Regions from separate parts of the Homo sapiens genome. Here region 1 is linked to region 2. Evidence: fine-mapped expression QTL. A gene starts in region 2. The other region holds a variant in brackets. All regions are shown on one strand. Distances are between the middles of the regions.

The links. PIP is the estimated chance that this variant, and not a neighbour inherited with it, causes the effect.
Region 1: its variant is fine-mapped to the expression of RIOK2 in fibroblasts (GTEx, PIP 0.96).

What each region holds. Positions count from the first base shown.
Region 1 is chr5:96,347,204-96,364,288 of GRCh38, reverse strand. All of the region lies in intron 3 of LOC101929710 (a long non-coding RNA gene), which reads right to left. It also overlaps a transcript of CAST not described here. Among named protein-coding and RNA genes, the nearest start is that of PCSK1, 78 kb to the left of the region's middle. The variant C/G (reference allele first, on the strand shown) is at 9,368.
Region 2 is chr5:97,176,194-97,193,278 of GRCh38, reverse strand. It overlaps RIOK2 (RIO kinase 2), which reads left to right and starts at 10,032. Exons shown (of 10, transcript NM_018343.3): 1 at 10,032-10,153; 2 at 14,086-14,224; 3 at 15,431-15,547; 4 at 15,988-16,163. The coding sequence starts at 10,088. RefSeq lists a silencer at 1-21.

The sequences.
Region 1 (17,085 bases), 830 kb after region 2:
TTTAGACCAATATCCCTGATGAACATCGATGCAAAAATCCTCAATAAAATACTGCCAAACCAAATCCAGCAGCACATCAAAAGGCTTATTCACCATGATCAAGTTGTCTTCATCCCTGGGATGCAAGTCTGCTTCAACATACGAAAATCAGTAAATGTAATCCAGCATATAAACAGAACCAAAGACAAAAACCAGATGATTATCTCAATAGATACAGAAAAGGCCTTCGACAAAATTCAACAGCCCTTCATGCTAAAAACTCTCTATAAATTAGGTATTGATGGGATGTATCTCAAAATAATAAGAGCTATTTATGACAAACCCACAGCCAATATCATACTGAATGGGCAAAAACTGGAAGCATTTGCTTTGAAAACTGGCAAAAGACAGGGATGCCCTCTCTCAACACTCCTATTCAACATAATGTTGGAAGTTCTGGCCAGGGCAATCAGGCCTAATTGAATAAAGGGTATTCAATTAGGAAAAGAGGTAGTCAAATTGTCCCTGTTTGCAAATGACATGATTGTATATTTAGAAAACCCCACCGTCTTAGCCCAAAACCTCCTTAAGCTGATAAGCAACTTCAGCAAAGTCTCAGGATACAAAATCAATGTGCAAAAATCACAAGCATTCTTATACACCAATAACAGACAAACAGAGAGCCAAATCATGAGTGAACTCCTATTCACAATTGCTTCAAAGAGAATAAAATACCTAGGAATCCAACTTACAAGGGATGTGAAGGACCTCTTCAAGGAGAACTACAAACCACTGCTCAACGACATAAAAGAGGACACAAACAAATGGAAGAACACTCCATGCTCATGGGTAGGAAGAATCAATATCGTGAAAATGGCCATACTGCCCAAGGTAATTTATAGATTCAATGCCATCCCCATCAAGCTACCAATGACTTTCTTCACAGAATTGGAAAAAACTACTTTAAAGTTCATATGGAACCAAAAAAGAGCCCACATTGCCAAGTCAATCCTAAGCCAAAAGAACAAAGCTGGAGGCACCATACTACCTGACTTCAAACTATACTACAAGGCTACAGTAACCAAAACAGCATGGTACTGGTACCAAAACAGAGATATAGACCAATGGAACAGAACAGAGCCCTCAGAAATAATACCACACATCTACAACCATCTGATCTTTGACAAACCTGACAAAAACAAGCAATGGGGAAAGGATTCCCCATTTAATAAATGGTGCTGGGAAAACTGGCTAGCCATATGTAGAAAGCTGAAACTGGATCCCTTCCTTACACCTTATACAAAAATTAATTCAATATGGATTAAAGACTTAAATGTTAGACCTGAAATCATAAAAACCCTAGAAGAAAACCTTAGCAATACCATTCAGGACACAGGCATGGGCAAGGACTTCATGACTAAAACACCAAAAGCAATGGCAACAAAAGCCAAAATTGACAAATGGGATCTAATTAAACTAAAGAGCTTCTGCACAGCAAAAGAAACTACCATCAGAGTGAACAGGCAACCTACAGAATGGGAGACAATTTTTGCAATCTACTCATCTGACAAAGGGCTAATATCCAGAATCCACAAAGAACTCAAGATAATTTACAAGAGAAAAACAAACAACCCCATCAAAAAGTGGGTAAAGTATATGAACAGACACCTCTGAAAAGAAGACATTTATGCAGCCAACAGACACATGAAAAAATGCTCATCATCACTGGCCATCAGAGAAATGCAAATCAAAACCACAATGAGATACCATCTCACACCAGTTAGAATGGCAATCATTCAAAAGTCAGGAAACAACAGGTGCTGGAGAGGATGTGGAGAAATAGGAACACTTTTACACTGTTGGTGGGACTGTAAACTAGTTCAACCATTGTGGAAGACAGTGTGGTGATTCCTCAAGGATCTAGAATTAGAAATACCATTTGACCCAGCCATCCCATTACTGGGGATATACCCAAAGGATTATAAATCATGCTGCTATAAAGACACATGCACACATATGTTTATTGCGGCACTGTTCACAATAGCAAAGACTTGGAACCAACCCAAATGTCCATCAATGATAGACTGGATTAAGAAAATGTGGCACATATACACCATGGAATACTATGCAGCCATAAAAAAGGATGAGTTCATGTCCTTTGTAGGGACATGGATGAAGCTGGAAACCATCATTCTCAGCAAACTATCGCAAGGACAGAAAACCAAACACCGCATGTTCTCACCCATAGGTGGGAATTGAACAGTGAGAACACCTGGACACAGGAAGGGGAACATCACACACCGGGGCCTGTCGTGGGGTGTGGGGAAGGGGAGGGATAGCATTAGGAGATATACCTAATGTAAATGACAAGTTAATGGGTGCAGCACACCAACATGGCACATGTATACATATGTAATGAACCTGCACGTTGTGCACATGTACCCTAGAACTTAAAGTATAACTAAAAAAAAAAAGAAAAGAAGCAAAAAAAAAAAAAAAAGCATACTAGAGCGGTGTGGCTGGCAAAATGACTGAAGACAAATCGCTCCTGTCAGCAGCTCCCACCGAGATCAACCTAGAAGGCAGATGATTTCCACATTTCCAACTGAGGTACCTGGGTCACCTCAATAGGACTGGTTAGACAGTGGGTGCAGCCCACGGAAGGTGAGCTGAAGCAGGGTGGGGCATCGTCTCACATGGGAAGTGCAAGGGGTCAGGGAACTCCCTCCCCTAGCCAAGGGAAGCCAGGAGGGACCATGCCGTGAGGAACAGTGCATTCCAGCCCAGATACTATGCTTTTCCCACGGACTTCACAACCTGCAGTCCAGGAGATTCCCTTGGGTACCTACACCACCAGGTCCCTGGGTTTCAAGCACAAAACTGGGCAGCCATTTGGGCAGACACTGAGCTAGCTGCAGGAGTTTTTTTTTCATACCCCAGTGGTGCCTGGAATGCCAGCGAAACAGAACTGTTCACTCCCCTGGAAAGGGGGCCGAAACCAGGGAACCAACTGGTCTAGTTCAGCGGACCCCACCCCCGCAGAGCCCAGCAAGCTAAGATCCACTGGCTTGAAATTCTTGCTGCCAGCAGAGCAGTCTGATGTTGACCTGGGACACTCGAGCTTGGTGGGAAGAGGGGCATCCACCATTACTGAGGCTTGAGTAGGCAGTTTTCCCCTAAGAGTGTAAACAAAGCTGCCAGGAATTCTGAGTGGCAGAGCCCACCGCAGTTCAGCAAAGCCACTGTAGCCAGACTGCCTCTCTAGATTCCTCCTCTCTGGGCAGGGCATCTCTGAAAAAAAGGCAGCAATCCCAGTCAGGGGCTTATAGATAAAACTCCCATTAGGCTGGGACACAGCACCTGGGGGAAGGGGCAGCTGTGGGTGCAGTTTCAGCAGACTTAAACATTCCTGCCTGCTGACTCTGAAGAGAGCAGTGGATCTCCCAGCACAGCTCTTGAGCTCTGCTAAGGGACAGACTGCTTCCCCAAGTGGCTCCCTGACCCCTGTGCCTCCTGACTTGGAGATACCACCCAGCAGGGGTTGACAGACACCTCATAGAGGAGAGCTCCAGCTGGCATCTTGCGGTTGCCCCTCTGGGATGAAGCTTCCAGAGGAAGGAACAGGCAGCAATCTCTGCTGTTCTCCAGCCTCTGCTGGTGATACCCAGGCAAACAGGATCTGGAATGGACATCCAGCAAACTGCAGCAGACCTGCAGCAGAGGAGCCTGACCGTCAGGAGGAAAACTAACAAACAGAAAGGAATAGCATCCACATCAACAAAAAGGACGTCCACACCAAAACCCCATCCAAAGGTCATCAACATCAAAGACCAAAGGTAGATAAATCCACGAAGATGAGGAAAACCAGTGCAAAATGGCTGAAAATTCAAAAACCAGAATGCTTCTTCTCTGAGGGATCACAACTACTCACCAGGAAGGGAACAAACTGGTGGAGAATGAGTTTGACAAACTGACAGAAGTAGGCTTCAGAAGGTGGGTAATAACAAACTCCTCTGAGCTAAAGGAGCATGTTCTAACCCAATGCAAGGAGGCTAAGAACCTTGAAAAAATGTTAGAGGAATTTCTAACTACAAAAACCAGTTTAGACAAGAACATAAATGACTTGATGATGCTTAAAAACATAGCATGAGAACTCTGTGAAGCATACATAACTATCAATAGCTGAAGCGATCAAGCAGAAGAAAGGATATCAGAGATTGAAGATCAGCTAAATGAAATTAAGTGTGAAGACAAGGTTATAGAAAAAAGAATGAAAAGGAATGAACAAAGCCTCCAATAAACATGGGACTATGTGAAAAGACCAAACCTATGTTTGATTGGTGTACCTGAAAGTGACGGGGAGAATGGAACCAAGTTGGAAGACACCCTTCAGGATATTATCCAGGAGAACTTCCCCAACCGGGCAAGACAGGCCAATAGTCAAACTCAGAAAATACAGAGAACGCCACAAAGTTACTCTTCGAGATGAGCAACCCCAAGACACATAATCTTCAGATTCACAAAGGTGGAAATGAAGGAAAAAATGTTAAGGGCAGACAGAGAGAAAGGTCAGGTTACCCACAAAGGGAAGCCCATCAGCCTAACAGTGAATCTCTCTGCAGAAACCCTACAAGCCAGAATAGAATGGGGGCCAATATTCAACATTCTTAAAGAAAAGAATTTTCAACCCAGAATTTTAAATCCAGTCATACTAAGTTTCACAAGCAAAGGAAAAATAAAGTCCTTTACAGACAAGCAAATGCTGAGAGATTTTGTCACCACCAGGCCTGCCTTACAAGAGCTCCTGAAAGAAGCACTAAATATGGAAAGGAAAAACAGGTACCAGCCACTGCAAAAACATACCAAATTGTAAAGACCATTGACACTATGAAGAAACTGCATCAACTAATGGGCAAAATAACCAGCTAGCATCATAATGACAAGATCAAATTCACACGTAACAATATTAACCTTAAATGTAAATGGGCTAAATGTCCCAATTAAAAGACAGACTGGCAAATTGGAAAAAGAGTCAAGACCCATCAGTGTGCTGTATTCAGGAGACCTATCTCACATGCAAAGACACACATAGGCTCAAGATAAAGGGATGGAGAAATATTTACCAAGCAAATGGAAAGCAAGAAAAAGCAGGGGTTGCAATCCTAGTTTCTGATAAAACAGACTTTCAACCAACAAAGATAAAAAAGACAAAGAAGAACATTACACAATGTAAAGGGAGCAATGCAACAAGAAGAGCTAACCATCCTAAATATATATGCACTCAATAAAGGAGCACCCAGATTCATAAAGCAAGTTCTTAAACACCTACAAAGAGACTTAGGCTCCCACACAATAATAGTGGGAGACTTTAACACCCCACTGTCAATACTAGACAGATCAACGAGACAGAAAATTAACAAGGAAAGGATGTTCAGGACTTGAACTCATCTCCAGACCAAGTAGACCTAAGAGACATCTACAGAACGCTCCACTACAGATCAACAGAATATATATTCTTGTCAGCACCACATCATACTTATTCTAAAATTGACCACATAATTAGAAGTAAAACACTCCTCAGCCAATGCAAAAGAATGGAAATTATAACAAACAGTGTCTTAGACCACACTGCAATCAAATTAGAACTCAGGATTAAGAAACTCAAGCAAAACCACACGACTACATGGAAACTGAACAGCCTGCTCCTGAATGACTACTGGGTAAATAATGAAATTAAGGCAGAAATAAATAAGTTCTTTGAAACCAATGAGAACAAAAACACAACGTACCAGAATCTCTGCGACACAGCTAAAGAAGTGTTTAGGGGGAAATTTATAGCACTAAATGCCCACAAGAGAAAGCAAGAAAGATCTAAAATCAACAACCTAACATCACAATTAAAATAACTAAAGGAGCAAGAACCAGCAAATTCAAAAGCTAGCAGAAGACAAGAAATAACTAAGATCAGAGCAGAACTAAAGGAGATAGAGACTCGAAAAACCCTTCAAAAAATCAATGAATCCAGGAACTGGTTTTTTGAAAAGATTAACAAAATAGATAGACCACCAGCCAGATTAATAAAGAAGAAAAGAGATAAGAATTAAATAGACACAATAAAAAATGATAGAGGGGAGATCACCACTGATCCCACAGAAATATAAACTACCATCAGAGAATACTATAAACACCTCTATGCAAATAAACTAGAAAATCTAGAAGAAATGGATAAATTCCTGGACACACACACCCTCCCAAGACTAAACCAAGGAGAAGTTGAATCTCTGAATAGACCAATAACAAGTTCTGAAATTGAGGCAGTAATTAATAGCCTACCAACAAAAAAAAGTTCAGGACCAGATGGATTCACAGCCGAATTCTACCAGAGGTACAAAAAGGAGCTGGTACCATTCCTTCTGGAACTATTCCAAACAATAGCAAAAGAGAGACTCCTATCTAACTCATTATATGAGGCCAGCATCATCCTGATACCAAAGCCTGGCTGAGAAACAACAAAAAAAGAGAATTTTAGGCCAATATCCCTGATGAACATCAATGCGAAAATTTCAATAAAATACTGGCAAACCAAATCTAGCAGCACGACAAAAAGCTTATCCACCACAATCAACTCGGCTTCATCCCTGGGATGCAAGGCTGCTTCAACATACGCAAATCAATACATGTAATCCATCACATAAACAGAACCAAAGACAAAAACCACATGATTATCTCAATAGATGCAGAAAAGACCTTCGACAAAATTCAACAGCCTTTCATGCTAAAAACTCTCATAAACTAGGTATCGTTGGAAGGTATCTCAAAATAATAAGAGCTATTTATGACAAACCCACAGCCAATATCGTACTGAATGGGCAAAACCTGGAAGCATTCCCATTGAAAACCAGCACAAGACAAGGATGCCCTTTGCCACCACTTCTATTAAACATAGTATTGGAAGTTCTGACCAGGGCAATCGGGCAAGAGAAAGAAATAAAGGGTATTCAAATAGGAAGAGAGGAAGTCAAATTGTCTCTGTTTGCAGATGACATGATTGTATATTTAGAAAACCCCATTGTCTCAGCCCCAAATCTCCTTACGCTGATAAGCAACTTCAGCAAAGTCTCAGGGTACAAAATCAATATGCAAAAATCACAAGCATTCCTATACACCAATAATAGACAAACAGAGAGCCAGATCATGAGTGAACTCCCATTCACAATTGCTCAAAGAGAATAAAATACCTAGGAATGCAACTTACAAGGGATGTGAAGGACCTCTTCAAGGAGAATTACAAACCACTGCTCAAGGAAATGAGAGAGGGCACAAACAAATGGAAAAACATTTCATGCTCAAGGATAGGAAGAATCAATATTGTGAAAATGGCCATACTGCCCACAGTAATTTATAGACTCAATGCTATCCACATCAAGCTACCATTGACTTTCTAAACAGAATTAGACCAAATTACTTTAAATTTCATATAGAAGCAAAAAAGAGCCTGCATAGCCAAGACAATCCTAAGCAAAAAGAACAAAGCTGGAGGCATCACGCTACCTGACTTCAAACTATACTACAAGGCTACAGTAATAAAAACAGCATGGTACTGGTACCAAAACAGATATATAACCAATGGAACAGAACAGAGGCCTCAAAAATAATGCCACACATCTACAACCATCTGATCTTTGACAACCCTGACAAAAACAAGCAATGGGGAAAGGATTCCCTATTTAATAAATGGTGTTGAAAAAACTAGCTAGTCATATGCAGAAAACTGAAACTGGACCCCTTCCTTACACCTTATGCAAAAATTAACTCAAGATGGATTAAAGACTTAAATGTAAGACCTAAAACCATAAAAACCTAAAATAAAACCTGGGCAATACCATTAAGGACACAGGCATGGGCAAAGACTTCATGACTGAAACACCTAAAGCAATTGCAACAAAAGCCAAAATTGACAAATGGGATCTAATCAAACTAAAGAGCTTCCGCACAGCAAAAGAAATTATCCTCAGAGTGAACAGGCAACCTACAGAATGAGAGAAAATTTTTGCAATCTATTCATCTGACAAAGGGCTAATATCCAGAATCTACAAGGAACTTAAACAAATTTACAAGAATAAAATAACCCCATCAAAAAGTGGACAAAGGATATGAACAGACACTTCTCAAAAGAAGACAATTATGTGGCCAACAAACATATTTAAAAAAGCTAATAATCACTGGTCATTAAAGAAATGCGAATCAAAAACACAATGAGATACCATCTCATGCCAGTTAGAATGGCGATCATTAAAAAGTCAGGAAACAGGCCGGGTGCAGTGGTTCATGCCTGTAATCCCAGCACTTTGGCAGGCCAAGCTGGGCAGATCATGAGGTCAAGGGATCGAGAACATCCTGGCCAAAATGGTGAAACCCCATCTATACTAAAAATACAAAAATTAGCTGGGCGTGGTGGTGTGCACCTGTAGTCCCAGCTACTCGGGAGGCTGGGTCAGGAGAATCGCTTGAACCCAGGAAGCAGAGGTTGCAATGAGCTGAGATCACGTCACTGCACTCAAGACTGGTGACACAGCAAGACGCCGTCTCAAAAAAAAAATAAAAGACGTCAGGAAACAACAGATGCTGGAGAGGACGTGGAGAAATAGCAATGCTTTTACACTGTTGGTGGGAGTGTAAATTATTTCAACTATTGTGGAAGACAGGGTGGCGATTCCTTAAGGATCTAGAACCAGAAATCCCATTTGACCCAGCTATCCTAATACTGGGTATATACCCAAAGGATTATAAATCATTCTACTATAAAGACACATGCACACGTATGTTTATTGAAGCACTGTTCACAATAGCAAAGACTGGGAACCAACCCAAATGCCATTAATGATAGACTGGATAAAGAAAATGTGGCAAATATATACCACAGAATACTACGCAGACATAAAAAAGGATGAGTTCATCCCCTTTGCAGGGACATGGATGAAGCTGGAAACCATCATTCTCAGCAAACTAACACAGGAACAGAAAACAAACACCGCATGTTCTCACTCACAAGTGGGAGTTGAACAAGGAGAACACATGGACACAGGGAGGGGAACATCACACACTGGGGCCTGTCAGGGGGTGGGGGGCTAGGGGAGGGATAGCATTAGGAGGAATACCTAATGCATGCGGGGCTTAAAACCTAGATGACAAGTTAATGGGTGCAGCAAACCACCATGGCACATTTATACCTATGTAAAAAACCTGCACGTTCTGCACATGTATCCCTGAACTTAAACTATATAAAAAAAAGAACTATAAAGAATGAAAAGAGAAGCATCCAGAGACATAGGTAAAATTTTTGAAATCTGTACTGACCAAAATATATTTTAGTGTCTGAAGATACTCT[C/G]ATATTGAAAATGCAATATTAAAAAATTAAGAAAAAATAAAAAGTAAATTGTTTGATTAAAAATAAATAAATAAATAAATAAAAGCATACTAGACCTTCATCTTTCACAGTGGGAAGTTAACATTTATTGCCTAAGCTCCAGAACAAAGAAATATATACGTAAATATATATAAAATTAATAATATGCATAACATCTTATATATTATATTTACATTGCATAATTTATATTATATATAATATACATAATATATACTGTCTATAGGTACATAAGCATGTGTAAATATACATACAGATACATATATAAACATGTTATTCAAAGAAATGAAAATACCATATTTCATCAATCCTGAGACATACATTTTTTTTTTTACATTTCAACATCTCCATAATCAGGATACGTCTCAACCCATGGTGTATCATAGTTTAACTGGCAGCATTTGTTGCATTATAGAATCTCAGGCATTATTGATTTAATGAAATGCGGTCAATACCAATCAGTTGAAGGAGTTCAAAATGGCTGCCTCTGAGAAGCTACATAGATGGGGTGGTGAGGGTGGTAAGGGACTGCTATTGTAGTAACAACCTTGTGAAATTATTTGACTCTTTATGTATATGTGTACTTTATTTTTAAAAAATACTTCTAAATTATGTTTTAAAAGTTTTTAAAAATCCTGTTGGCTGTTTTGTGGAAAAGAATCACTAGGAGGATAAGATTGGGAAGGGGAAAATGAGCAGGGGCTCTCACTTGGTTCAGGAGACTGGTGATGGTTTAGTGATAACAATGGAGGTGGTGGTAATTGGTCGGATTCTTGATATGTATTTAAAGTAAAGCTGCCCAAGTTTACCAATGTATTGAATGTGGAATATGAGAGAAAGAAGAGAATCAAACATGACTACAAGGTTTCTGGCCTGAGAAGCTGGAAGGATGAAGTTTCAATATCCTGAGATGTGGAAGACTATATGAAAAGCAGGTATTAGTCAAGGTTCCCCAGGGAAATAGAAGCAACAGGAGATATAGATACAGATGATCGAGATAGAGACAGATAGATAGATAAGGGGGGATTTATTATGAGAATTGGCTCATGCAATTATGGAGGTTGAGATGATTCACCACATGCTGTTTGCAAGCTGAAGAACCAGGAAAGTTTGTAATGTTATTCAGTCTGAGGCTGAAAGCCTTGGGTAGGGGAAGGAGAAGAATAGTGTTAAGTCCTAAAGGTCAAAGGCCTGAGAGCCAGAAGCACTGCTATCCAAGGGCAGAAGGAGATGAAAATCACAGCTCCAGACAAGAGTGAATTTATCCTTCATCTGTCCTTTTGTTCTATTCAGGCCCTCAACAGACTGGATGATGCACACTCACATTGGTGAAGGTGGATTCTCTTTACTCAGTCTACAGATTCAACTTCTAATCTCTTCTGAAAACACCCTCATGTGCACACCCAGAAACAATGTTTTACCAGCGATCTGGACACTCTGCAACCCAGTCAAGTTGACACATAAAGTTAACCATCACAGCAGGATAAGGAAGGAGGAAATCAAGAGTGCAGTTAGGTCATATAAGTTTGGATGCCACTTAAACATCTAAGTGGAAGTGATTAGTAGGCAAATTATATACACAAGTCTGGAGTGCTGTACTAGCTAAACTGAAGATAAAATTTGGGTTTGTTTCTTCACTTTCCTACATCCCCCATCTAAAAAGTATGGTTATTGTTCACCTGCTTTTATAGGTAATGATAAAGTAAGTCTTGGTTTTTGTTTATGTGCTTGTTCAAAAATAAGTCTTCGAGTATTGTTTTTTTTTATCAATCAGTATTTGTAAGTTTTTGCCTCTTTCTGGTATTGTCCACAAATCCTGACCATGCTCATGTAAGACTGCTGTATTAGTCCATTTTCACATTACTGTAAAGAACTACCTGAGACTGGGTAATTTATAAGGAAAAGAGGTTTAATTGACTCACAGTTCTGCATGACTAGAGAGGCCTCAGGAAACTTACAATCATGGCAGAAGGCGAAGGGGAAGCAAGCACATCTTACATGGCAGCAGGAGAGAGAGCAAGGGGGGAAGTGCCACACTTTTAAATCATCAGGTCTCATGAGAACTCACTCACTATTAAGAGAACAATATGGAGAAAATCCACTCCCATCATCCAATCACCTCCCACCAGGTCCCTCCCCTGACATGTGGGTATTACAGTTTGAGATGAGATCTTGGTGGGGACAGAGAACCAAACCATATTAACTGCATACCTGTCCAGAAAACCTAAGCACGTCTTACCAAGACTTTGGTTCCTTTATGCAGATTTATTTTATTTTGATAATTGTGTTAAAAGGAATGGTGTTACCCCTGTTGGTGGAAATAAATTCTTCCTACATAGAGAAAAAGCTAAAACCAGATCTCCTATCACACTGAATCATGGATGCCAAGATTCTCAAGCAACAAAATTTAAAAAGCCTTCTGAAACCCTTAGAAACAGTTGCCTGGTACATTGCTAGTCAATTATGTTATGTTCAATTTCTTGGAGCCCCTTCCACAAACACATATACAAAGCAATGAAACGTAAGCAAATTTCATGAGTCAGGTGAAGTAACTCCTGCTTACTTTCTTCAAAGTAACACTAAAGTAAGGTCCTGATTTTATCCTCTCACCAGACGTTTTCCCATCAGACTTTTGAATTCACTTTACACATTTCACTTTGAAGAACACAAAAAGAGACACAAAACAAATTCTTTCTGACCAAAAAGACATGTATAAACATGATAAAGTCTTAAGCACCTTGGAGAAAGGCTCTTCATGAACTTTCTTGAGTTCCAGCCAGTCTTTGGCCATCACAGTATGGGCAGATCTGATAGACCTCTCTAATATTCTAAGTGTTGGGATGGTCCTCTAAGATGTGACTGTATGGTGAGGTACACTCTAGAGGCTAATTCCAGACAAGGAGTCACAAAAATACCCACCCAACAGTTATTTTGGTCTCTGCAATTAAAGGCATTTCGGTTAGTTAACTTTTCTGTGATCCTTTTAGAAAATCTGGAGAACTTTCCATTTCTTTCTACATTTATTATTTTGCACTCCCAATTTCTCCACCTTCTTCTCTATCCCTAAGCACTTAAAACAAAATATTTGATCATTTTTATAGCAGTATATAGTTAAACATAAAAGAACAGTGAGTTTTTTTCACCAATTTCTAGTGACAATTTAAAGACTGTTTTCTAACAGTTTTTTCTCATTACACCCACACTACCTTTCCCCTCAGTGTTTCTTTCTTGTAAAAATGACTCCAGATACGTAATACAGGTGTGCAGTAGACATATACCCTTAACAAACTGAGATAGCTTAATTATACTGGGATAACAAACAACCCTACATCTCTGTGGCCTAAAGCAGCAAAGTTTATTTCTTGCTTATAATACATTTCCCTCATGTGCCAGTTGAGTGTTCTGATTTCTGTCACTTTGTCCTCACCCAGAGACCTAGCCTGAGAGAGTGGACACAATCTACATTACCCATTGCTGAAGCAATGTGTAGAGACAGTGTGGCAAAAAATGCACTGGTTCTTAAACTTCCACCTGAAAAGGACACGCATGCCACCGCCATTATATCTCTTTGGCCATAGCAAGTCACATGGCCAAACCTAAGGGTCAGATAAATACAAATTTTTCTTACAGGTGGGGCACTGAATATTAGTAAACAGTTATACAATCCATTATACACACTCAACTACAGAGTTATGATGTTATGTGTTTTTATATCAAAATCCCTAGTAATAGAAGAAATTCCTGTTCACTTTGTCTAAGTGTTGTTTAGAAAAACATCTAAATTCTGAGATTCAAAGTCCTAAGTTACTGTCTCAACCTCACTCTGTATGTTTGGTTAACAGCTAATGGTTTCACATTTTGTAGATAAATAAAGGTCATCATCTCATTAAATGGATATGTTTCAGACCACAGAAAAATGCATGACATGGTTACCAAGGTTCTTCACTTATAATGAAGGTCTGAAAATGTCACCAGGGGAAATCAAGAGCCATTTTCAAGCTGAAACAATCAGTTCCAGTTGTGATTGTGCAATGATAATTACGCAGTTGTGTTCTATTCCTCTTCCCTAGTGTTATGGATGTCAGGAAATGTGCTGTTCCTTTTAACATTAACTCTTTATGGCTCAGAAAGATATTTGGGGGCACATGGAGAAGGAGGAAGTTGGAGTGGAATAGTGAAAAATGTGTGAAAAGAAAATAAATCTCGGGACCCCAAAATCACTAAGCCAAAGAAAAAAGTCAAGCTGGGAATTGTGTCAGGCAAACCTGCCTCCTATTTTATTTCTAAATAAGATAGCCACAAAGAAAAAAAAGCTACATATGTCCCTTACAATTTGCCCACTAGGAAATTCCTTGTGGGCTCCAATATCTTCACCCTAAAACAATTCTGTTGAATTTTACCCTGACAATGTAAATTGACAGCTTATCTTCACAGGTGGGGGACAAAGGACAGAACTTTGTCCTCCCTCTGCTCACCTGAGATAAATGGATATCTGATTGCTTACTCTGATGTAAAATGCAGATTTATGGAGCCAGATGAAGGCATAAGTGACTATTCCTCTACCTCCTTCTCATACGTAAATTGTGTATTTGGTGAAAGGCTGATCAAAGACTCAAAAGAGTGCAACTGTTTGTCTCTTATCTACACACACCTTCTAACAATTTATTTCTCTTTCCCCAATATTTGCTTTTTCCCTTTAAATACTGAAGCCCTTAAAATTATCTTTGGAGAAAGGCACAGACTTGCCTCCTGGGCACACATCATTAACTTTGGCAAAATAAACTTTCTAAATTGATTGAGACCTGTCGCAGACACTTTTTGGCTTACAAACATGAGATCAGGAATTATGACCTTTCCAGTATAATTTGACAAATCAAGCAATTTAGTCGATTGTCAATCAAGTGTGTGTTATCTATCTAGTTTACTTCATCACCACGTTTCTATTCCTGGTCATTTGTGTAGATTAGACTGATGCTATTTCTCACCTAAGCCACTGCACTAGCTTATTCCTTTCCTTCTTGCCTTCAATTTCTCTCTCTCTCCATTCCAACTTCCACATAGCAGCTATTTTACTAAAGCTCAGTTCTGATGGTGAAAGTTACACAAACAGAAAGGAGTTTACTGGCTCCCTGTCACTTACAAAATAATGTCCAGTTCCTAAGCACACCCTTTCCTCAACAACTACAGGTCAATCTACTTTTTAGTCTTTATTTTCCAATGCACCTTCTTAGGTTTAATGAAGTATGCAATTGAAAATAGTGAAATTTTTTCAGCAGCTAACATCCTCTTATTTTGAAAGATACAAATTTATCTATTCTTCCTTATAAGTGTAAATGTCTTGCTGACGCCAAAGAGTTTTTAATAGACTCATGATAACAATTAGGCCTCTTGATACATATGAAAGACAAAAATACCTGCAGTTGATCCTTGATGAACAGTTACATGTGTTGCATCCAAAGGCTAAAAGTAGATCTTTTTAAAATTACAGCAAAATAATCATGCCACAGAGAGGTCAAGGAGAGAGAAGTTAATAATATTTAATTATAATCACAGGAAAATGGTGAACTCTTAATGCCCAAACATGAATATATTCTTAAAAGCAGTATCTCAATTTAGACCAGAGCAACCAGTCAACTTAAATTCCAGCTGAGATTTATTTTAGTTCAATTTTGCAAATTGTCCTAATTGAATTCCCTTGGATAGGGAACAGTTTATACTGATAACTAGCAAAAAAAAAAAAAAAAAATAGTGTCCTTGTTGGTTGAAAAGAAAAATGAGAGAGAGACCAGAAAAAAAAAATTATAGAATATTTTGTTGGTTTGTGTAATGTTCTATGTTTTCTCCTTCCTGACTTAATCCCTGTCCTTCCCAAACTCCCAAAATCTTCATTTTACTCTTCAGAAACCCCAGCTCTATGAAACAATTCTTCTACATTCTCAAACATGTCTTCCTTGCACTTTCTGCTCATAATTAACCCTAACTTCCCATGTGGAACACCACTTCCGTTACAGCCCTTTTGATAGAAGTGGCATATTTCCTAATTCCCCAGGTATCTCAGGGCTGGAAGTGGGTTCATGTTCCAGACAAATATTTTTCCAGCCTCTGTAAATCCTGGACCTGCTGAGTCCAGGCTTACAGTCTCTGTCTTCCTCATTGCCATTGCCATCTGCCTCCTCTGTACACCATCTGTCCTTTCTTTCAGACACTGTCCACCATCCTCAATCCTCTTACTTTCTCCAACCCATGAACTCTTAGCAAATGACCCTGTCTTCTACTGGGGGAAAATAAACCATCTGATTGGAACTATATAGCCTCAACTTCCCACCATCAAATCCCAAAACTATCATTTTCTCCACCTTTCTGTTGCAATATGGAGATTGTCCCTTACCATCAAAAGCAATTCCTTCATCTGGACTTAGAATCTTTTTCCCTAGAGTCTTCTCCTTAGGAATCAGGCACCAACAAATCTCTCTATCTCTCCCTCTCTCTCTCTCTCTCCCTCTCCCTCTCTCTCCCAGGCCTCCTTCAAACTAGCATTATTCATGTCTCTCCAAATTTAAAAACAAAACAAAGAGTAGAATAAAATATTCCCTTAATCCTATAGTCCTTTCCATCCATCATCCTATTTCTTCCCTTCCTTCTTCTGTTACCTTTCTTTACTTGGCTTTATTTACTTTCCTCCAACTCTTACTCTAAATCTGGCTCCTGGGCCCACCATGCCACTGATACTGCCCTTGACAAGGTCATCATTGACCTCCATGATACTACATCCGATGAATGCATTTGAACTTTTCAGCTTACTTAATGACTCAGCATCTGCCAATTCAATGAAATAATCCTTTACTTAAAACATTGTCTGGCATCATCTTTTGAAACTCGATTTCTGTCTTATTTGTAGGCAATACTTTCTCTATTAATCATTAACTATTGGGGTTTGGGGGTTTTGTAGGGAGGGCTCTCTCTGAACTACTGTGTTCTTCTCACTTCACCCTCTCTCCACATCATCCACCCTGATGGCTTCATAGTAGACACGGTTAGTGGCTGCACAGCTCTCTTCAAATCATCTTTACCAGTCTCTGTGCCTCTTCCCTGGTTTTAGTTCACTTTTGCTCCCAATGACCCTTCAGAGGATTTCCTGTGGGGTTTAGAACTGGTCTTATTCCATTGCTGGGATGACTCTTAGGAACTTGGTGTGGGATGATAAGGCTGACTCACATTAAATGAGGTGGAGGTACCAGAGTAGTCTTGCCAGAGTTCTAAGGAAGAGATTCAAAAGCCCAAGATGCAGGTATGCCAAAATGGTTCTGTATAATAACTGAGGACCCGCCAGTGATGAAGGAGAGAAAAAAACCAAGGTCTGATTTACAGATAGACCAGCTTGGTATGCTAGTACAAACAAAAATAGACTGCTGCTGCATGACAGAGGTCCCAGCTTTGAACAGGAGTGCACCTGGTCATCCACTTTGTGTGAAGAGAGTGGCTTGAAGGAAGGATAAGCACGGACTTCTGAGCAGTGCAGAATGGATCATTTGGAATTGAACTATTTGGATTGGAAGATTGGGAACAAAGAGATCTGGAGTAGAAACAGGTTCATGGACCCATAGGAATGGGCAAACTGTGTATCATGCATTAATGTCCATTAGGGAGTATTCACTGTAGAAGAGGCTCTACAAAACTAGATG
Region 2 (17,085 bases):
TGCTTGCTTTCTCAGCAGGGAGGCTTGTAGCCTGGGGCAAGTTCTCAGCCCTGCTCACCAGCTGCCTGTAAATAAACTCAGTGCTGTTGGTGGGGCACGGTGGGAGTAAGACTGGCCCTTCAGGCTCTGCGGTGAGGCCTGTCACTACTGGCTTTTCCCCACTTCTGTGGTAACCTGTATGATGCAGCAGAGGCAGCCATAATCCCCCTGGGAACATAACTCCGTTAGCAAGCCTAAGAACCATACCCTGCCCCCCACAGCAGCTGCAGCAAGCCACACATAAAGAAAATCTCAGCTCAGACACATATAACCCTGCCCCAACTTGATGGTCTTTCTCTACCCACCCTGATAGCCAAATACAAAGAACATAATTTCTTGGGAGCTCTATGGGCCCAACTACCACCTGAAAAACCTGAATATTTATGCAGGCAACCCTAAGGCAAGCTTGTATCCTCCCTATACTACCACAGCTGATGCTCTCTCGAAAGCACCACCTCCTGGCTGGAGGCCAACCAACACAAAACCAGTGCACTAAACAAAACTGCAACCAAGAACCCTCATAGAGTCCAATTCACTCCCCTGCTACCTCCACCAGAGCAAATGCTGGTATCCATAGCTGAGAGACCTGAAGATAAATAACATCACAGGACTCTTTGCAGACATGCCCCAGTACCAGCCTTGAGCCTGGTAGCTCGTAGATCCACTGGTAGCTAGATGCAGAAGAGAAATAACAATCACGGCAGTTCGGCTCTCAGGAAGCTCCATCCCTAGGGGAAGGGGGAGAGCACTACTACATCAAGGGATCACCCCGTGGGACAAAAGAATCTGAAAAATAGCCCCTGAGCCCCAGATCTTTTCTTCTCACATAGTATACCCAAATGAGAAGGAACCAGAAAAACAATTCTGGTAATATGACAAAACAAGGTTCTTTAACACCCCAAAAAAATCACACTACCTCACAAGCAATGGATCCAAACCAAGAAGAAACCTCCAAATTGCCAGAAAAAGAATTCAGAAGGTCGATTATTAAGCTATTTAAGGAGGCACCACAGTAAAGTGAATACCACCTTAAAGAAATAAAAATTATACAAGATATGGATGGGAAAAATCTCCAGAGAAACAGATAGCATAAATAAAAAACAATTATAACTTCTGGAAATGAAGGACACACCTAGAGAAATGGAAAATACACTGGAAAGTCTCAGCAATAGAATCAAATAAGTAGAGGAAAGAACTTCAGAGCTCGACAGCAAGGCTTTCAAATTAACCCAGTCCAATAAAGACAAAGAAAAAATAATAAAAAATAAATAAACAAAGCCTCCAAGAAGTTTGGGATTATGTTAAACAACCAAACCCAAGAATAATTGGTGTTCCTGAGGAAGAAGAGAAATCTAAAAGTTTGGAAAACATATTTAAGGGAATAATCGAGGGAAGCTCCTGGCCTTGCTAGAGATCTAGACATCCAAATACAAGAAGCTCAAAGAATACCCAGGAAATTCATTGCAAAAGATCATCGCTTAGGCACAAAATCATCAGGTTATCTAAAGTCAAGGCAAAGGAAAGAATCTTAAGAGCTGTGAGGCAAAAGCATCAGGTGACCTACAAAGGAAAACCTATCAGATTAGCAGCAGGTATTCAGGCAACAACTAGCACAACAAATAGAATAGTATCTCATTTTCAATACTAACTTCAGTGTAAATGACCTAAATGCTCCACTTAAAAGATACAGAATGGCAGAATGGATAAGAATTCACCAACCAACTAACTGCTGACTTCAAGAGATTCATCTAACACATAAGGACTCACATAAACTAGGAAAAAGACATTCCATGCAAATGGACACCAAAAGCAAGCAGGAGTAGCTATTCTTATATCAGACAAAACAGACTTCAAAGCAACAACAACAACAAAAAAAGACAAAGAGTGACATTATATAATGATAAAAGGACTAGTCCAACAAGAAAATATAACAATCCTAAATATATATGCACCTAACACTGGAGGTCCCAAATTTATAAAACAAGTACTACTAGACCTGCCTAAGAAATGAGATAGACAGCAACACAATAATAGTGGAGGATTTCAGTACTCCACTGACAGCACTAGACAGGCCATCAAGACAGAAAGTCAAAAAAGAAATACAGACTTAAACTATATCCTAAAACAAAATGGACTTAACAGATATTTATAGAACATTCTACCCAACAACTGCAGAATATACATTCTATTCATCAGCACATGGAACATTCTCCAAGAAAGACCATATAATAGGCCACAAAACAAGTCTCAATAAATTTAGAAAATCAAAACTAGATCAAGTATTCCCTCAGACTCTAGTGGAATAAAATTGGAAATCAACTCCAAAAGGAACCCTCACAAGCATGCAAATACATGGAAATTAAATAACCTACTCCTGAATGATCACTGGGTCAACAATGAAATCAAGATGGAAATTTTAAAATCCTTTGAGCTGAATGATAGCAGTGACATAACCTATCAAAACACCTGGGATACACCAAAAGCAGTGCTAAGAGGAAACTTCATAGCACTGAATGCCAACATCGAAAAGTCTGAAAGAGCACAAATAGGCAATCTAAGGTCACACTTCAAGGAACTAGAGAAACAAGAACAAACCAAACCCAAACCCAGCAGAAGAAAGGAAATAGCTGAGATCAGAGCTGAACTAAATGAAATTGAAACAAAAATAAAACAATACAAAAGATAAATAAGGCTGGGCGCGGTGGCTCACGCCTGTAATCCCAGCACTTTGGGAGGCCGAGGTGGATGAATCAGGAGGTCAGGAGATTGAGACCATCCTGGCTAACACAGTGAAACCCCGTCTCTACTAAAAATACAAAAAATTAGCCAGGTGTGGTGGCAGGTGCCTGTAGTGCCAGCTACTTGGGAGGCTGAGGCAGGAGAATGGCATGAACCCCAGAGGCAGAGCTTTCAGTGAGCCGAGATCATGCCACTGCACTCCAGCCTGGGCGACAGAGCGAGACTCTATCTCAAAAAAAAAAAAAAAAAAGATAAATAAGACAAAAAACTGGTTCTTTGAAAAGATAAATAAAATTGATAGACGATTAGCAAGATTAACCAAGAAAAGAGGAGAGAAAATACAAATAAGCTCAATAAGGAACAAAACAGGAGATATTACAACTGACACTATATAAATACAAAAGATCATTCAAGGCTACTGTGAACACCTTTACATGCATAAACTAGAAAACCTAAAAGACATGGATAAATTCCTGGAAAGTAGAGAGGCATCACATTACCCAACTTCAAACTATACTATAAGGCTATAGTCACCAACTCAGCATGGCACTGGTATAAAAATAGGCATGTAGACCAATGAAACAGAAAAGAGAACCCAGACATAAAGCCAAATACAGCCAACCAATCTTTGACAAAGCAAACAAAAACATAAAGTGGGGAAAGGACGCTCTATTCAACAAATGGTGCTGGGATAATTGGCAAGCCACATGTAGAAGAATGAAACTGGATCCTCATCTCCCCTTTATACAAAATCAACACAAAATAGATAAAAGACTTAAATCTAAGACCTAAATCATAAAAATCCTAGAAGATAACATCAGAAAAACCCTTCTAGACATTGGCTCAGGCAAAGACTTAATGACAAAGAACCTAAAAGCAAATGCAACAGAAACAAAAATAAACAGATGGAATTTAATAAAACTAAAAAGTTTCTGCACAGCAAAAGAAATAATCAGCAGAGTAAACAGCCCACAAAGTGGGAGAAAATCTTTGCAAACTATGCATTTGACAAAGGACTAATATACAGAATCTACAAGGAACTGACTTAAACAAACTAGGAAGAAAAAACAGCCCACAAAGTGGGAGAAAATCTTTGCAAACTATGCATCTGACAAAGGACTAATATCCAGAATCTACAAGGAATTGACTTAAACAAACTAGCAAGAAAAAAATAAACAATCCCATCAAAAAGTGGGCTAAGGACATGAATAGACAATTCTCAAAAGAAGATATACAAATGGCCAACAAACATATGAAAAAATGCTTAACATCACCAATGATCAGGGAAATGCAAATCAAAACCATGATATGATACCACCTTATTCCTGCAAGAATGGCCATAACCCAAAAATCAAAAAATAATAGATGTTGGCATGGTTGTGGTGAAAAGAGAACACTTTTACACTGCTGGTAGGAATGCAAACTAGTACAACCACTATGGAAAGCTGCATGAAGATTTTTTTAAAGAACTAAAAGTAGATCAACCATTTGATCCAGCAATCCCAGAGGAAAAGAAGTGATTATACAAAAGGATACTTGCACACATATGTTTATAGCAGCACAATTTGCAGTTGCAAAAATATAGAACCAACCCAAATGTCTATAAATCAACAAGTGGATAAAGAAAATATGTTGGCCGGGTACGGTGGCTCATGCCTGTAATCCCAGTTATTTTGGGAGGCCAAGGTGGGCAGATCATGAGGTCAGGAGATCTAGACCATCCTGGCTAACATGGTGAAACCCCATCTCTACTAAAAATACAAAAAATTAGCCAGGCATGGTGGCAGACGCCTGTAGTCCCAGCTACTCGGGAGGCTGAAGCAGGAGAATGGCGTGAACCCGGGAGGCGGAGCTTGCAGTGAGCCGAGATTGCACCACTGCACTCCAGCCTCGGCAACAGAACGAGACTCCATCTCAAAAAAAAAAAAAATTGTGATACACACACACACACACACACACACACATACATACACATAGACCATGGAATACTACTCAGCCATAAAAAGGAACTAAATAATAGCATTTGCAGCAACCTGGATGGAATTGGAGATTCCATCTATGTGAAGTAACTCAGGAATAGAAAACCTAACATCATATGTTCTCACTTATTAAGTGGGAGCTACGCTATGATGATGTAAAGCCATAAGAATGATACAATGAGCTTTGTGGATTCAGGTGGGAAGGGGGGTAAGGGACAAGATTTACTGATCAAGATTGTTTTGGATATTCAGTTAACCAAATATTCTTGGTCCTTAAGGATACACAGAAGAGAGTGATTCTCAACCACAAAGAAATGAAGGTGACGGGGTCTGTGATGGGGACTTAAATGAACAAGAGGTTTAGAAACACTAATTCAAGTCTATCCCCTTCATAATACAAATAAAGAACCTATGACCCATTAGACCTATAAACTTCTTGAGTAAAGGAACTGAGTTTTGTCTACCAAAATGCATTGTAAACATTCAAAATAAAAACTTGTTTGAATGAGTGAAATTAAAGGCATACCCAAGATCAAAAACTAGTTAGTGTCAGAGTTAAGCCAATGATAATATCTCTCAGTTGGAGGTCTTATTTTGCCTATCCCACCTTTATGGAAGGGTCCCATTATCACTATGCTGAAGGCCCAGAAAAACACTGGTGAAGGTGGACTTTCACACGAAGCCGACTCTGTACTGCAGAGTGGCATGTGGGAATATTAATACAGAGTGCTCTTATGATCAACTCTTTAAGAAGAGCAGGGAAAGAAGTAGGATTAGGCAAAGGAAAAAGTTTAACTGTGGTGTAGTACCAAAGGAGGCCTCGAGGCTTTTGACTCGAAAGCAGGGGTCCCCAACCCCCAGGCCACGGACCAGTTCCTTTACTCACATTTCTTGTGCACACCCATATATCCTTTCTCATACCCCTCTACCTCAGACATCCTTGTTCCCAATCTACTAATTCTTCTTCCAAGTCCCTTTCCAACCAGCCAAGCCATTCACCCTTCCCCATGAGTCCATGTATATTTTAACCTGGGGCTATTTCTCTTACTACACAAAGTGAATGATGAAGTGCACCTTCCAAAGATCTGCCCATCAGGAGGATATTCCCTGATCACTTCTCTTTCAAGGACACACAAATAGAGCTGTAGTTCAACTACAAAATCAAACTGACCCATCCGTGAATCTAATGTGGGCTTTTTTTGCTTCACCAACTGATCAAAGGTATCACCCATGGAGATATAAGTTGAGGGAAAGGCACTTGGGCAATGGTAGTGGATGACATGAAAGAGTCCAGTCCACCTGCTCATGCAGCTTGCACCCTCTGGTCCTGCTTGTGTTCACTCCTGCACGTACCACTTTCATCTTAGGATAGATCATTACTGAACAACTGTGACCCCGATGTCACCTGTGTGATATCTCAGCGCCAAGCAACACATCTCTCCCAGGGCTCTGCAGCACGCCAGGAGCTATTTTTCAAAAGGTATATAAATCTCTGCTGTGTATTCTGAACATGCTTCTGAATTCAACAAGTTTGTGTTGTGAGTCTCCCATTGAAACTTGCCATAAACTCCACACATCCCTATCTTCCATTCTGTGTCTTTTTCCACCACTGATATCCCTTATATGCAAATGTATGGCGCTACCACCCATATGCAGTAAAATCTATCATAATTTTTTCTGAGTTTTAGCTAGTATAATATCTTAAATGTAAATATACAAAATTTCTTTTTCTTGAATCTATGCTTTAAATTCAGTCTCCACATTCAACTTTTTCTGTAATTAACCTAACCTATGGGCAAGCAGGAGAGGTTAAAAAGTGGCCAGAATCATTAAAGACAACAGGCTACAGAAGATTAGAGGGAGGAGCACTTACTTCCCTTTGAGAGTGTGAGAGGTTGAATGATGACCCATCCAAAAATATCCACATACTAATTTCTAGAACCTAAGAATTTATCCTATATGGAAAAAAATATTTTACAGATGTTATTAAGGGTCTGAGTGGATCCTAAGTGCAATTACATGTATTTGTATAAGACAGAGACAGAAGGAAACACACACACTCACGAGTAGAGAAGGCAATAACGTAAGCATGGAGACAGAGACTGGAGTGATGTGCCACAAGCCAAAAGAATGCCAGCAGTCACCAAATCCCAGTAGGAGCTGCAAAAGGCAAGGAACAAATTCTCCACTAGAGCCCCTCTTGGGGGAACATGGTCCTGTCAACACGTTGATTTTGACCCAGTAAAAATAATCTCTTATTTCCAGCGTCCTGAACTGTAAGAGAATAAAGTTCTATTGTTTTAAGTCGTCAAAGTTTGCGGTAATATGTTAACAGCAGCAAGAGAAAATTAATATAGAGATAAATAGGAATAATAAAGAAAAACCTTATGTGGTGAATAGAATTTTAATGGTAGATAAGATTTACATATATTGTGATTGAAAAAGAAGAAAAACAGTAGGGAAGAGGTAATATTACAGGTGGAGGGAAAAGTATTACAGGTGAAGGGAAAACTTAGTAAAAAAGAAATTTAAGGGAGTTATACAGGGAAAACAAAAGTAGTTCAATTAGACAAGAGTACAAACTGCTTGAAGATGGTGATACAGATTGTTGACAATCCTGAATGCCAGTCTAAACGTGCACTTTGATCTGTAGACAGTTAAGGTTCTCTGCAACTTGTAAGGACAGGGTCAGGGCAGGGGAGGTAAGGGAGGAGGAAACACCAACATGATACACCTTTTGCACATCTGTGTCACACTACTCTCTATTTTTCTACTCTTCACCCTCCAACACAGGTATGAGGGTTGAGATTGATTCCCCAGGACCTAGTAAAAAAGTATGGCATATATGTTTGATGAATAGTGAATGCATTAACGAATAATACTGTACATGTTTTGTTTTACTCATCACTAAGCATGGTATGAGGGAGTAGAACAGAATACCAAACTGCACTTCAATCACTTACTTTTACTCTTCAAAGTTCTGATTATTAAAATGATTTTATTTTAAAAGTAATATTCCAAATATAAGAGATTTGGACTTAATGTGATTAACCGTAAGGCATACTTCAGAACACCAATAGCAATTCTAGTCAATTCCACTCAGTTAATGGTGGCTGTCTGAGGCAATGTTGAGAAATAATGTAAGAATTACACCATAATAGATTAGGAACATTTGCTAAAGTGCTGGATTCGGAGTAGAAACATAAATGGCTTGTTTCCCATTCCATTCTTGCTCTAGAAGTTAGTTATTTGCATACAAATGGCCAACAGGTACATGAAAAATTGCTCAACATCACTAAGTATATAAGAAATGAAAATCAAAGCCATAATGAGATATTATCTTACCCCAGTCCAAATGGCTACTGTTAAAAAGACAAAAAATAATGGATGTTGGTGAAGATGCGGAGAAAAGAGAACTCTTATACACTGTTGATGAGAATGTAAATTAGTACAGCCACTGTGGAAAAGTATATGGAGATTTCTCAAAAAATTAAAAATAGAATTATTCAATCCAGCAATCCCACTATTGGGTATCTACCCAGAGGAAAGAAATCAGTATATCAAAGGGATACCTACACTTGCATGTTTATCGCAGCACTATTCACAATAGCAAAGCTATGGAATCAACCTAAGTGTCCATCAACAGATGAATGGATAAAGAAAATGTGGTATATATACACAATGGAGTACTATTCAGACATAAAAAATGAAATCTTGCCATTTGCAGTAACGTGGATGGAGCTGGAGGTCATTATCTTAAGGGAAATAAGCCAGGAACAAAAAGACAAATATCACACGCTCTTACTTATATGTGGAAGCTAAAAAATTTGATCACATTAAGGTAGAGAGTGGAAAGACAGATAACAGACTGGGAAAGATGAGGGGAGTGGGAACAGGATGAAGAGAGTAGGTTAAAGGTTACAAACATGGAGTCAGATAGAAGGAATATATTCACTGCTTGATAGTAGAGTAGGGTAACTATAGTTACACAAAAATATATTGTATTTGGATGACAGACACCCTAAATACTTGTAACAAAATTTCTCACGTACCCCATAAATTTGTACAAATAAAGTTAGTCACTTGGTTTTTTTAAAAACTTTTCGCCCAGGCGCGGTGGCTTATGCCTGTAATCCCAGCACTTTGGGAGACTGAGGGGGGCGGATCACCTGAGGCCAGGAGTTTGAAACCAGTCTGGTCAACAGGGCGAAACCCCATCTCTACTAAAAATAAAAATATTAGCAGGGCGTGGTGGTGTGAGCCTATAATCCCAGCTACTTAGGAGGCTGAGGGAGAAGAATCCCTTGAACCTAGAGGGCAGAGGTTGCAGTGAGCCAAGATCGCGCCCCTGTACTTCAGTCTGGGTGACAGAGCCGGGCTCTGTCTCAAAAATAAAAAAAAAATTCATTTCTATGCCTTCTTATGTAAGTACAGAAAGAAAAATTCCGTTTAAATGGAGATGTTCATTGGTTGAAGATGGTTAATCAAAGACATGCTGCATTCAAGTAAAAAGCAGACAAAGGCTTGAATATCGAGGAGTTGCAGAGCCAGTATGGGTAACTATTCTAAAATCCTTAAATCGCTCCTGGGCCCTCGAAGTCCTACCCGCGTAGGTCAGCCCGAACTATCAAAATCCCCACTTCCTCTGGAGGTAAGGACGTCCGCCGCGCTCTCCACGTGTCACCTTAAACTCCCACCCCAACCAGCGCAGGCGCACTTCGAAGCCTCCTAGACCAACCTAAGAGAAGTACTGAGCAAGCGCATGAGTTCCATTAACCACGCCCTCCGGAGCTGCCGGAGCAGGCGCAATTAGGAGTAGAGGGCGTGCTTGTGTGATTACAGTCCACTTTACCTTTAACAGATTTGGTTGTCTGGACTCTAGCTCAGGTTCTTTTACCCCTGTCTTGTTGGAAGTCACTTTGCCTAGAGTAGAAGTTGTTTGCGGGAAAAATTTGCTCCTCCCATTAAGTAACCACTTTGCTCTCTGAGGCGGAACGTGTCATTGAGGCAGCAAGTCCTGACAGATATGGAAAAAAAAAGGCACATTGTAGAGAATATCTACACTCCGCCAACTCAGTCACAACGCAAAAATTACACAAAAATAAAACGTTCACTTGTTACATACTATGTGTTTCATAAGACATACAAGTAGTTTTATTTTCCTATATCAATGAGAACAGCACTTCTAACTATTAACAAGGACCTATACTAAGACGCAGCGCGTGCGCGAGCCATCTGGCGCTGTAAAGCGCTTAGAGGCTGGAATAACGACCTGCCTTACGCTTTGCGGCTGTCGTCGGAGAGGCATCTGGGTTCGGACTGGGGCCGCCATGGGGAAAGTGAATGTGGCCAAGTTGCGTTACATGAGCCGAGATGACTTCAGGGTCTTGACCGCGGTAAGAAACCCGCCGTTCCTGTTCTCCCTTCCCCTTAACACTGTGTGACCTCTTCCTGTTCCTGCAAGTTTTCTGGGATCTGAGCAGGCACACTCTGGGACCCGGGACGTGGCAGAAGCTGGGAATGGAGAAGAGAGCATTCAGAAAGTCGGATTTTTAAAAAGGTTTTGTTTGGGAGCTTACCTTCCCCCAGATAGAGCAAAGGTCCCGTCTTCTAATAATTGTTTTCTTTTCTGCTGCTATTCGCTTTGCGCTGAAGAGAAACGCTTGCATCTCTGTGGCCTGGAAACTTCTCTGATCCTGAGCTTCCGACCAGCTGTGAAAGGTTTAAGCCCCCCCCCCCCCCCGAGATTTGATAATATTGACTTCCCTACTAACAGACTCAGTCGCATAGCAGTCTTTCTGATTCATTCAGTCAACACATATTTGTCGGTTTTTTAGTAGCAACATTAGGAGGTTCACTTGTTCAAACAGACAAGTGGAGAGAGAGACACAGATCATCAAGTAAACGAAAAATAGGATAATGGATAAATGCTATGAAAATGATAAAGGATAATGGCATAGAAAGTATATGTATCTGGTGGAGAGGAGGGGCACAAGTTATTGGCCTTTGGTAGACAATCAATAAATATTCACTAAATGAAAGAATGAATGGGGGAATAATAGGAGCTGTGTGAGAAAGAGACAGCCCAGTGAAGTCCTTGGAAAGAGTTGGAGGCAGAGGAAACAGCAGTAGTAAGTGCAAAGGCCTTGAGACAGAAAAGTCTTTGAAGAGAGGAAAGGCCAATGTAATGTGGCTGGAGCAAAGTGAGATGCACACTAATGGTTGGAGATGTAGCGGAAAAGGTGAGAAATTATGTACTACAGAGCCTTGGAGGTTTGGTAAAGAATGTGGGGGTAACCACTAAATGTTTTTAATCAGGGGAGTAACAAAATCTGATTTTATGGCCTCAGTCTTATGGCACAGAAATTAATATATAGATCAAGACATTTGTACATTTATTTAGGAGCCGTTATCTTTTGGTAAGGAGTGAACCCCATGATAAGGACTACCTATATTGTGTAATTATGTAATAGGATATGCGATGTGAGTCACACTGGTTCTTGCATTATGTTAAGGCTTCAAGTTTTGGATTTTTAAAATTAATCTTAAATAGCGCTTAAGTATTAAACTATCAAATGCAAAATCAGTGTGAAATTTGGAAGACAATGTTTACTTTGCCTCTCATGTAGATTCTTCTAATCAGCTGGACTTTCTCTATGAAAACCTACTATCACTTCGGAAAGATACCTTCCTTTCCTGCTTTCTCAGCACACTCATTCCTTAGTGTCTCTGACAGAAGTAGGGGTCAAAAGTAAGAGTGTTAGAGGACGGGGGAGGCAGAGACAAAGCATGGAAAATAAGTTAAATTTAAAAGTTAAGGTTTTGGTGAGACATCAAAATGATGCCAGATTTATCTTCCAAAACATTGGCGCTGCAATATTTAAATTATTTGTAAAGTTCACCAAGAAATGACTTAGTCATTAAATATGACATTCCGGTCTCAGTTGAATCTCACCAGTGTTGGTACCCTTTCTTGGGCCTCTCTTCCCTTTTACTTCTTTGGCTCCTCCTATATCAATAATCATTGTTTGACTAGCTGCCCTTAGCTTTCAATATGAACTTGCCCCAGAATTCTGCTCCCAAACATTCCTTTTCTTCCATTATCTCCTGCTCAGTGATAGCATCCACTTCACATCTTCAACTCTCACTTCTATAAAATAATTGACAATTTTTCCTTCTAATTATAACTTCATTCCTAAATATAGGCCCCTTTCCTATTTAATTTTCTCTCTTTCTTTTTTTTTTTTTTTTGAGACGGAGTCTTATTCTGTTGCCAGGCTGGAGTGCAGTGGCACAATCTCAGCTCACTGCAACCTTCACCTTCTGGGTTCAAGCGATTCTCCTGCCTCAGCCTCCCAAGTAGCTGGGACTATAGGCGCACACCACCACGCCCAGCTAATTTTTGTATTTTTAGTAGAGATGGGGTTTCACCATGTTGGCCAGAATGGTCTCGATCTCTTGACCTCGTGATCCACCCACCTTGGCCTCCCAAAGTGCTGGGATTACAGGTGTGAGCCACTGCACCTGGCCTCCAGTTTTCCTTTAAACATTTTTATTTGACTCTCAGTGCTCAAACCAAATTCAATTTTTTTCTACCCCCTTTCTCTTTTCCCAAGCTCTATAAAAAAAAAAAATAATAAAATCTTAAAACTTGCTTTTCCTCATCACTTCCAATTGTGGCTTTCCGTTCCCTTTACCCTTCCACATCTAATTGCCAAGCTCTCCCATAATACTTCCTAAAGATTTTTATTCCTTCCTTCCAGTACCACTACCACTTACCCTGTTCTGGTGGCTCTTTCCTCTGAGCTGGACTTCTGTCTTAGTTCTCCGGAGTACCCCCTCAGATTTTGCCATCTCTAAGCCAATTTGCATATTCCTGGTACATTAATGTCCTTAAAATAACCCTGTTCGTGTGTCTCCCACGCCTAAACATCTTCAAGAGCTTCCTGCTCTCATCAGGATAAAATATAAAAGTATTTGGTCTACATTTTAATGCCTTCTCTATCCTAGAAGTATCTTCCAGCCGCGTTTGCATGAATTCTATATGCTATCCCATCTGAGCTGCTACTGTACTCAGCTATTCTCTGTGGTCAGTACTTTCTTGCATATGTGCCATTTTCAAATCTTTTTCTTTCACTAATATCCCCTTGTCTGTTTTCTCTGTATGCCCACATCTTTTAAAAGTCAGTCTCTAGTTTTGCATCTTCCTTGGAACTGATCCCTCAGCTAGAAGTATTCTTATTCTGCCCTGAGCTACCTTTTTAAGCACTTATCACTTCTTAACTTCTAATAAACTTAGATGTATACCATTTTTTAAAATTTCCATCATGAGATAAAAATTTCTCAGAGGTAAAAAGCACATATATATATATATATATACATATATATATATATACATATACACATGCAGAAGAGCATGTAGGATAGAGATATATATATATGTGCTTTTTACCTCTGAGGAATAAATTTAAAAATATATATATAATATATATATTATATATATATTATATATATATAATATATATATATTTTATATATATATATTATATATATATATAAAATACTTTTAAGTTCTGGGGTACATGTGCAGAACGTGCAGGTTTGTTACATAGGTATACACATGCTATAGTGGTTTGCTGTACCCATCAACCCATCCCATCTACATTAGGTATTTCTCCTAATGCTATCCCTCCCCTAGCCCCCCACCCCCCGACAGGCCCCAGTGTGTGATGTTCCCCTTTCTGTGTCCACGTATTCTTACTGTTCAACTCCCACTTATGAGTGAGAAAATGTGGTGTTTGGTTTTCTGCTCTTGTGTTAGTTTTCTGAGAATGATGGTTTCCAGCTTCACCCATGTCCCTGCAAAAGGCATGAACTCATCCTTTTTTATGGCTGCATAGTATTCCATGGTGTATATGTGCCACATTTTCTTTATCCAGTCTATCATTCATATATATATATATATCCTCTACGATGCCTACATGTAGTACTTTCTCATTAAATACCTGCTTAATAAATATCTGGCATATCTGTAGTTTTTAAAGACAAATGTTTAGGTGTCATCAAGTATTTTAGCATTGACCAAATGTCATCAGTATGTCTAGCACTCACAGTTCCTACTCTTGAAATGGAAAGCCAATACAAATATCAATGATTAGATTTCAAATTGCAATTAAAAATATTTTCAAGAGACGGAAGTGATTATGTCTCAGAATTAGTTGGAGAACTGCATAGTCAGGAAAGCTTCAAGGAGAAGTTAATTTCGCAGGGTTTTGATAGACAAGGCTTTGTGTTGATTATGATTATATAATGATTCCTTTAATTTCAGGTTGAAATGGGCATGAAGAACCATGAAATTGTTCCCGGCAGTTTGATTGCTTCTATAGCCAGCCTTAAACATGGTGGCTGTAATAAAGTTTTAAGAGAATTAGTGAAACATAAACTCATAGCTTGGGAGCGTACCAAAAGTAAGTATTTTGAGGCACCATTTGTGATTTTTCAGGTAATTGGTTTCCACCAGAGCAAGTGTTCCAAAAGTCAAGAAGTAGAAGTTGCCAGACTAGTAAAGCATTAGACGAAGAACTGACAGAACACACTTCGGCCATATCCTATTAGTCAAAATAATCACAGGGCACACCCAGATCAAAGGAGGTGAAAAAAGAATAGTAGTAAGAACATGTAGGTACTGCAGAAGAGCATGTAGGTACTGCAGAAGAGCACGTAGAGTACTGCAGAAGAGCATGTAGAGTACTGCAGAAGAGCATGTAGAGTACTGCAGAAGAGCACGTAGGTACTGCAGAAGAGCACGTAGGTACTGCAGAAGAGCAGGTAGAGTACTGCAGAAGAGCAGGTAGAGTACTGCAGAAGAGCATGTAGAGTACAGAAGAGCACGTAGGTACTGCAGAAGAGCACATAGAGTACTGCAGAAGAGCATGTAGAGTACAGAAGAGCACGTAGGTACTGCAGAAGAGCACGTAGGTACTGCATAAGAGCAGGTAGAGTACTGCAGAAGAGCAGGTAGAGCACTGCAGAAGAGCATGTAGGTACTGCAGAAGAGCATGTAGGTACTGCAGAAGAGCAAGTAGGTACTGCAGAAAAGCATGTAGGTACTGTAGAAGAGCATGAAGAGCATGTAGGTACTGCAGAAGAGCATGTAGGTACTGTAGAAGAGCATGAAGAGCATGTAGGTACTGCAGAAGAGCATATAGGATAAAGCTATTGTGGCTACCATCTTTGGAAAATACAATCAGTAGTCATACCCTAGATCATTACTTCTGAAACCATCTGTGGTGAAGGATTAGTTTTTTCCAACCTATCACAGATCCTTACTTTTATAAAATACAAAAAAATAATTACTAGAAAAATGAAATGGATAACAGATATACAAAAACAGACATAAATTCTAGGTCAAATTGATATACAAATTGAACTTAAATTCCTCCTTTTATCTTGTCACAAACACTTACAGACCTGTCTGTAGGTCACATTTTGATTATCAGTACACTGGAGAAGAAATGCAAATTATAGGAAGAAATTGGAAGCTTGTGAGCCTGGGCAGTTTATCTTTTTCCAATGAAGACTTTATTGTTAAATCTTTCTTATGACTTGAACTTACGTGACTTGGTTGTACAATGTAACTGAAATATGGTCTTTATGCTTTGATTTTTGTCTAGCTGTCCAGGGCTATCGGTTGACAAATGCAGGATATGATTACCTAGCTTTGAAAACACTTTCTTCTAGGCAAGTAGTTGAGTCTGTTGGAAACCAGATGGGTGTTGGCAAAGAATCAGGTAAGTGCTAATAGTACTGTGCAAAGTATTTTCTTTGCTTTAGTTTATGTTTTCCCTTCAGAAACCTTTCCTCTTTTAATTTTCCCTTTTTTCTAACTAAACAGTAAGTTGGAAAGTTGATTGGAAGCAGTACAAATCAGAAGGTGTCCTTAATTAGTAGGTTATTATTTTCTCTGAACGTCTATCACTGAAAATTCATTTATACCAGGAATTAATTTTCTTCTAATAACTCCCAAGATATATCATTATTTATGTGCAAATATACCAGAATCCAAAATTCAAAACACTTCTGGTCCGAAGGTTTTGGATAAGGAGGGATACTCAATCTTTATTAGGAAAAATGACATTTTTGATACAAATAAAATTAGAGAAAGTTAGAATTGTTTTAACTGATTGGAATAAACGTGTAATAATGGTTGTTTTTGAAATTTTGTCTCTAGATATTTACATTGTTGCAAATGAAGAAGGACAACAATTTGCATTAAAGCTTCACAGACTAGGAAGAACCTCGTTTCGAAATTTGAAAAACAAACGCGATTATCATAAACATAGGCACAATGTGTCATGGCTATATTTATCTCGTCTCTCTGCCATGAAGGAATTTGCCTATATGAAGGTATTTATTTTATTTTGTAGTCATGCATTTTTTAGCCAAATAATACATGTGTCTCAAAGGCCTTAATGACAAGTGTGATTCTGTTGTCCCCACATCTCTCTAACCTTAGACTCAATTCCTACAGACAGACTCAATCTTAAATAACTCTGTTGATTATTTGGGCTCTTTTAAGTGATTTCCTTCTACGTTAAGGTATTTTAAATTGTTACTAATGCATAAGGGCAACACATTCTGTAATGCTGACAAGATGAAAGAGCCAAAAGTAATTAATGATGCTGTTACCTCACAAATATGTATGTGTGGATGTATATATATCTATTCAATATATGTAACTATACATATGTCTGTTTCTAATTGAAAACACCAGGTAATTATCATCTGTAGAAACCTTAGTGTCTCAGATAAGTTGGCTAGTTTTTTGTTTCACATAAAGGAACAAACATTTATAGATTTATATGTATATTAAAAATGGTAAAAATTGGCTGGGTGCAGTGGTTCATGCCTATAATACCAGCACTTTGGGAAGCCGAGGTGGGCGGATTACTTGAGGTAAGGAGCCCAGCCTGACCAACAAGGTGAAACCCCATCCCTACTAAAAATACAAGAATTAGCCGGGGATGGTGGTGGCCACCTGTAATCCCAGCTACTTGGGAGACTGAAGCAGGAAAATCACTTGAACCCAGGAAGCAGAGGTTGCAGTGAGTGAAGATTGTGCCACTGCACTCAAGCCTGGGCAACAGAGCAAGACTCTGTCTCAAAAAACAAAAATGGTAAAAATCTTTAGTTTTTAAGAGGTAAGGATGAAGAGAAGTGGGTTAAAGGATACAAACATACAATTAGAAGGAATACATTCAATGTTTGATAGCAGAGTAGGGTGACTATAGTAAACAAAATGTATTGTACTCAGGAGATGAACACACTA